2 linked regions of the Homo sapiens genome follow. The protein of the gene in region 2 purifies or fractionates together with the protein of the main gene of each other region. This does not show direct contact. Each region holds a gene or a part of one and is shown on either strand. Other genes may lie near its edges.

Evidence for each region. Proteins that work in one complex are often made in the same cells at the same time.
Region 1: the proteins of IWS1 (region 2) and CTDP1 purify together in Homo sapiens (affinity purification with mass spectrometry; one large-scale study listed by BioGRID and IntAct). This does not show direct contact.

What each region holds. Positions count from the first base shown.
Region 1 is NC_000018.10:79,710,803-79,714,302, forward strand, and holds part of CTDP1 (RNA polymerase II subunit A C-terminal domain phosphatase), read left to right. Parts: intron 1-2,169; coding exon 2,170-2,336; intron 2,337-3,500. UniProt on the Homo sapiens protein: Processively dephosphorylates 'Ser-2' and 'Ser-5' of the heptad repeats YSPTSPS in the C-terminal domain of the largest RNA polymerase II subunit. This promotes the activity of RNA polymerase II.
Region 2 is NC_000002.12:127,491,990-127,495,489, forward strand, and holds part of IWS1 (protein IWS1 homolog), read right to left. Parts: intron 2,966-3,500; coding exon 2,883-2,965; intron 1,422-2,882; coding exon 1,292-1,421; intron 100-1,291; coding exon 1-99.

The DNA.
Region 1 (3,500 bases), on a different chromosome or scaffold from region 2:
CCCAAAGTGTTGGGATTACAGGCATGAGCCACTGCACCCGGCCTAGAGCAGTATTTCTGTATTGATGTTTTTTAGGAATTTAACATCCCCTTTCCAGTTTTCATTGTTAGCCTCAGAATACTTAGAAAGTTCCTTTCTAACCTGTACTCCCACTGTCTCCCAGGTGCCTGAGCCCTGGTGCTTGTGCAGGGCCCCCAATCCAGGCTCTGCCCCATCCCAATAGCCCTGTCCTGCCCTGAAACTGCCCTTGAGCTGGGCTTTTGTGTCTGTGGAGGCGGGGACTGTCATCCTCTCTGCCTCGTCTCTGTTAGACAGCACAATTCGATGTCAGCCCGCCACCTGACGTTGTGTATCTGTCATCCTCTCTGCCTCATCTCTGTCAGACGGCACTGATTCGATGTCAGCCCGCCACCTGACGTTGTGTATCTGTTTGCTTAACCAACCCTGGCATATGTGATCATTCTAGTCCCTTGACCTCCAAATTTTCATTCCTATGCGAAGACCTGGCATCGAGATTTGTGGTTGGAGAGGCAGGAGGCAGGCGTGTGTCCCCACAGTAGCCAGCTGTGAAGGATTTGGCCCTTTTGCCTCTGAGTATCCAGGGAATGGCCAGGGCTCCTGGGGAACTCAGCGACTGGACTTTCGGGCCCAGAACCCAGGAGGGCAGGCGTAGGGACGGGATGGCATCAGGGAGGTGGCAGTCGAAAGGACCCGAGTGGGCAGAGGAATGTGAATAGCCCCACCCCACGCACAAGCTCAGCAGCTCTGCGGGGCCACTGGTTTAGCGGCAGTTCTTGACATCAGCGTCAGCATCTGAGGTTGATAATTTTCTTAGGAGCTTGCTTGTGTTAATCCTACTAATAATTTACAAAATCCTAAGTCACTTGACTATTATGCCCATATTTTTGCCTTTTGCCATTTCTTCCTTTCCATCAGCTCCAGAGCCCCTTCCTGTCAGCTCCTCTGAGCCTTTTTGACAGGGCAGGCCGCTCCCCGCCCCTCCGCAAAGACTTTTTAATATTCTTTTATATGCTTTGACGTTTCTTGCCCACTGTATTCGAGGAGTTTCCCCATTTCCACCCGGAAGTCCGTCCTTGCTGATGTAACACCATGTCAGGTGTGGCTTGTTTTCCCGAGGAGCCTGGTGGCCACAGCCTCAGCTTCAGCCACTTCCTGGTTCTCGGTGGCCAGTCCCCACAGACTGTGAGACCTATGCTTGCTAATGTTAACTAAGAAGAGAATCTGAAAGTATTTACTTCAGAAACCTCCTTTTTGCTAGTTAGCGCCAGAGTGAGTAGATTAATCAGGGCAAAAGAGAATGAGAGGTGCTGTTAGTGTGTTACAGGGAAAAGTCACCCGAAGGCAGAATGATAGGATCGAATGGGGACATGCCCAGGATAGGCCCCAGTGGTGGGTACTGTGGTTTGCATGGAGGTAGCTGGAGGTCCGCTTAGAAATTCTGCATCAGCACTGGGTCTGGTTTTTGTTTTTTTGTTTTTGAGACGGTCTGGCTCGGTCGCCCAGGCTTAAGTGCAGTAGTGTGGTCTCAGCTCACCACAGTCTTGACTTCCTGGGCTCAAGCTATCCTCCCACTTCAGCCTTCTGAGTAGCCGGGACTACGGGCGCACACCCCCACACCTGTCTAACTTTTGTATGTTTTGTAGAGACAGGGTCTTCCTATGTTGCCCAGGCTGGTGTCAGACTCCTAGGCTCAAGAGACCCTCCTGCCAAGACCTCCCGAAGTGCTGGAATTGCAGGCATTAGCCACACAGCGCCTAGCCTGGTCTGTTTACAGAGTCAGCAAATTCTGGCCTTTAGGCTACCCAGCCTTGTTTGTACATGAAGTTTTATTGAAACATGGTCACGCCCACACGGTCAGAGTTGGGTTTCGTCCCCGTGGCCCGTAATGCCTAAAATAGTGACTCTGGCGCTTTAAGAAACAGTTTGGGAACTCCTGCCTGAAGGAGAATCGGAAACAGCACTGAAGATGTTACTGAGGTTTAAATGCGACCCAAACAGAAAGGGCTTCGGGGCGGTTGGTGTCCGTCTGATTAACCTGCTGTCTGCTGGTTACATGTGGATTAGAATCTTAAACTGTTACGCTTGGCAAGATGAATGACTACAACTTTTCATTATTATTTTTTGTAAATTATGCATTTTCACTTGTAGAAATCTCTTTCCTTGTGGAGACTCAATGGTTTGCATTATTGATGATCGAGAAGATGTCTGGAAGTTTGCCCCCAATCTGATAACTGTGAAGAAATATGTATACTTCCAGGGCACGGGTGATATGAATGCGCCCCCTGGGTCCCGAGAATCTCAGACGAGAAAGAAAGGTGGGTAACCTCCTTCCTGATTCTCTAGAAGAATTCACATTTGCTTATTGTTTAGCTCTTCTTATTTCTTATCTCTGTTTTGACTGCTATAAATTCAAGATACACTTTTTTTATTTGTGTTTCAGTAGAGATTATTGGATTTATTTATAGAGTACTGAAAAACAGGATATTAGGTTGTTTCAATTTGGGCTTTAAAAAAAATGGCCCTCACTTAAGCGTTTTCCCAGTTGAATAAAAACTAGAGGATGCTGTTTAACCTAACACATCCGAATAACTCCCTTCATCCCAGTTTTCCTTAAACACATCCCTGGGTATTGGGCCATAGTGTTCTGTAGAGAGAGTGAATGTGGGGGCGGTGGCTCTGCGGGGAATAACCGTTCCCCATGCGCAGTGGTCAGGCTGGGCGCTGGCTGGGGCCCCAGAGAGCAGCGTGGTTTAACTTGTCAGTCAGGCATGCAGCTGACGTCCACCCTACGAAAGTTAAGTGTTTTTTGATCTTTAGTTTTTTGAAAAATATTTTGAGGCACACGTTTATTGCTGTAGTCACTAAAATGGAACTTGGAGGTTAGGACCAGGGGAGGGTGAAACTAGGGGCATTCCTGTAGAAGGTAGAGACTTTCACCAGATGGGTGGGGTCAGCGTGGAGTTGCTGACTTCCTCCAGACCGTGGCTTGGGAAACCGTGGCCATGGTGGTGCCAGGTCATCCGGGGCTTACAGTCACGGTGGCGCCAGGTCTGCAGGGGCTTACGGCCACGGTGGCGCCAGGTCTGCAGGGGCTTACGGCCACGGTGGCGCCAGGTCTGCAGGGGCTTACGGCCACGGTGGCGCCAGGTCTGCAGGGGCTTACGGCCACGGTGGTGCCAGGTCTGCAGGGGCTTACGGCCACGGTGGCGCCAGGTCGTCAGGGGCTTACGGCCACGGTGGCGCCAGGTCTGCAGGGGCTTACGGTCACGGTGGCGCCAGGTCTGCAGCCCGGAAACCTCTAGTTGTCCTTACAGGTGGAGGATCCCTCCTCCCCCAAATCCAAAGCTTTTTGAGTGCCCACATGGTGCTTAAAGGAAATACTCATTAGGGTATTTTGGATTTTTTGGATTGGGGATGTTCAGCTGGTAAGTTTAACGCAAATACTCCAAACTCAGAAAAAAATTCAATATCCAAAACGT
Region 2 (3,500 bases):
GTCCTTGTTAGACCTTGACTCCTTGGGGTGTTTATAGAGATACATCACTGCTCGTCCAATCCCACTATGCTTCAGGGTCTCCTGGCTCACACTAGGCAGCTGGGGAACATAAACACATACACACATATTAATCACTCGGAAGCTGGGGGTCTTGCTAGTCTATTCTAGAGACCTGGCACATTCACAACAGAACAAATAAAAAATTCCATTTTCAGGATCTACAGACATAGAACACAAAGATACTTTGTGTCCACATCAAAAGTTCAGAGTTCAGGCCAGGCATGGTGGCTCACGCCTGTAATCCCAGCACTTTGGGAGGCTGAGGCGGGTGGATCACCTGAGGTCAAGAGTTCAAGACCAGCCTGGCCAACATGTGGTGAAACCCATCTCTACTAAAAATACAAAAATTAGCCAGGTGTGGAGGCAGGCGCCTGTAATCCCAGCTACTCGGGAGGCTGAGGCAGGAGAATCGCTTGAACCTAGGAAGCGGAGGTTGAAGTGAGCCGAGGTGGTGCCACTGCACTCCAGCCTGGGCACCAGAAGCAAAACTCCGTCTCAAAAAAAAAAAAAACAAAAAGAGGTTGAGAGCTCAGTATTACAGCTGAGTTGAAGTAAAACCTAACAATGTGAGAAAGTATGAACCAAGCGTACTCAGAGGTTAGCAGTTTAATACAGGAGCCAGCACAGGCCTCAGAATCCAATAGACCTAAGACTGAACCCAAGCACAGCCACCTTCTAGCTATGTGACCTTGACGAGTCGTTTAACTTCTCTGCATCTTAATTCCCTCATCTGTAAAATGGAAATAATACACCTACCTTCTCAGTTTACTGTGAGGAAAAAACGAATCAATACATATATAAAGCACCTGGCACAGTGCGTGGCATAGGAGGTTTCCTTGGGAATTCCTTCAGAAGTTAAATAGCTTACCCAAGGTGTCACAACTACGTAAGGTGGCCCAGCTCAAGATTCAAATGCAAGTTCATATGATTCTGAATTTGGTGTTCATTCTGCGTCACATTTCTCCCTGGAACTTGCCCACTACTGTACTACTCTTCTCAGACACATTACAGCTACTCTAAGATTTTTTCCCTTCAATGCGATAGTTACATGAAGTTTTATAAGGTCTTCCCTTTCACGCTCATTTTATTAGATATGTTCCTTTTTTCCAACCCCTCTTCTGGCAGGCTGTAGCAGAGATAACATATAAAAACACTGTAAACTACACAGGTTATGACCATACAGACCACATTAGATAATTAATAAAGAACAGTCAGATTATCTGCCTCTAACCTCTTGCAGGATCTTCAGCAGCTCCTCCCGGATCTTGAGTGCAGGCAAACTCCTATCTGGTAGAGGTGAGAGCCATTCTTTGATGGCAGACATCACACCACTGTCAATGAATGTTTCTTTAAGGTCCTGCCTGCAGTAACAATAATTTTTAAAAATTCTGTGAACCTTGGTTCTACTGTATCTTCCGACTTTTCTTACATATTTAGTGATGTTTCTAAAAACTGCTTTTAAAGCGTTACTCATATAAATTTGACATTTACTGAACACCATTCTGGTTTCGAAAGCAGTATGACATTTAGTTCTTATTTTCCAGAAATGCATATACTTGACAAAGATGATTTGCTGAAAACAAAACAAACTCAAGTTACACAAGATAAATTAATGCTGATATGAATGGTACAGACAGTAAGAACAATTAACTCCAATCTTTTCAACTAAAAAAAAAAAACGTTCAATCTATCAAAATAGTGATTCTTGAACAGTTTTACATGGTGGTGAACCCAGATTTGCTCTTCTCTGCAGGACACCAATGAGACTAGCACTCCACTGGCAGGACAAAAAAAAAAAAAAAAAACTCAATAAAATAATACTTAAATTCCATTTTATGTACTGGAATCAGTTATGTTAATAGAAAAGATAACATTATATACATAAAACCTGCCACAGATAGTTTCCCCTGTTAGAATAGAGGGAGAAATTTTCTAGTTACAGATGCTCTAGGCCATGCTGGTGGCAGCTCACTGATGCACCAATACATTTCCTCAGTCATCAAAAGTAGGCTGTGGCTTAGTTCAAAGAGAAAGCAAGGTTGCTCAGAAATATAAGCAAATCAGGGCCCGGTGTGGTGGCTCACACCTGTAATCCCATTCCAGTACTTTGCCTTTGGGGTGTTGAGACGGGAAGATCGGCTGAGCCCAGGAGTTCGAGACCAGCCTGGGCAACACAGCGAGATCCTGTCTCTAATTAAAAAAAAAAAAAAAAAAAAAGCAAATCAATGAAAAAAGTTAGAAACAAGGATCTACTCAAAAAGGGCATCATTACTTCAGAAGGATCAATAATTGTGACACATTAGAGTCATATAAGCCTTGTACAATGCAGCCTTCAGGTAGGATCTTCCAAGATTTACTATTTTCCATCACACGGAGAAAACAGATGCAATTTTACCAGACCAAAAACTGTCTATAAAGAACAAAATTAGTGGCCAGGTGCAGTGGCTCATGTCTGTAATTCCAGCACTTTGAGAGGATGAGGTGGGAGGATTACTTAAGCCCAGGAGTTCAAGACAAGCCTGGGCAACATAGCAAGATCCTGTCTTTACCAAAAAAACAAAAACAAAACAAAAAAACACAAAATTAGTAGTTTCCAAGTTTTTCTTTCGTTAGTATCAATTTTTTATTTGTTCTGTTTGCACCAGGCATCAAGGCTTAATAAAAATTTATGAAGAAATATAATTTAGGAAATTTTATTCATTATCTTTCTGTGAACCGATAGAAGTCTATCATTATTTAATATTCCTAGAACACCAGTACATCATTTGAATTATCATTCCATGAAAAGGAAAAAGACATTTTAAAGAAAACAAAATACTTACTTCTTAAGGTGCATAACTACAGCAGGCAGTAAAGTTAATTTTTTCAGTGCTGGCTTTTTTTGATTGTTCAACTGTCTGTCTTCCTATTCAGAAAAAAAATAAAGATTTTTTTTTAAAACAGTACTTTTTATTAATATTGAATTCACTGTAATTCTGAACCTTAAAATAACAGTTTTTCAAAGAAACAATTTTTCCTACAAGAAAGAATAATTTAAGATGGATCTTCTGCAGAGCACCAAGCTCTGTATCTGTCTATGTCAGTCAAACCCAAAAAACTATTAGAATAATTGCCTTTAACAACTACAAATTGAGAGAAACAATTTTAATGTAGAACATTAGCATAACTGTCAAATTTTCAGAGTTCATTAAAGGTACAAATTAAAACTGGGAAATTCTGGTTTATTATATTAGGAACAATTTTCCAGGTGTGAGGTTATATGATATTGGAATATACTATATCAAAGAAGAGTTTCAGTATTACTTGGGCAGTTTTTTCTATTTTTTTAAATTATGAAAAATTTCAAATTCTACAAATATAGAATAATATACCTGTTGCATATATTTCAACAACTGAATACACATAGCTAGTCTTCTTTTAGCTACTTTCCCTCCATTCTT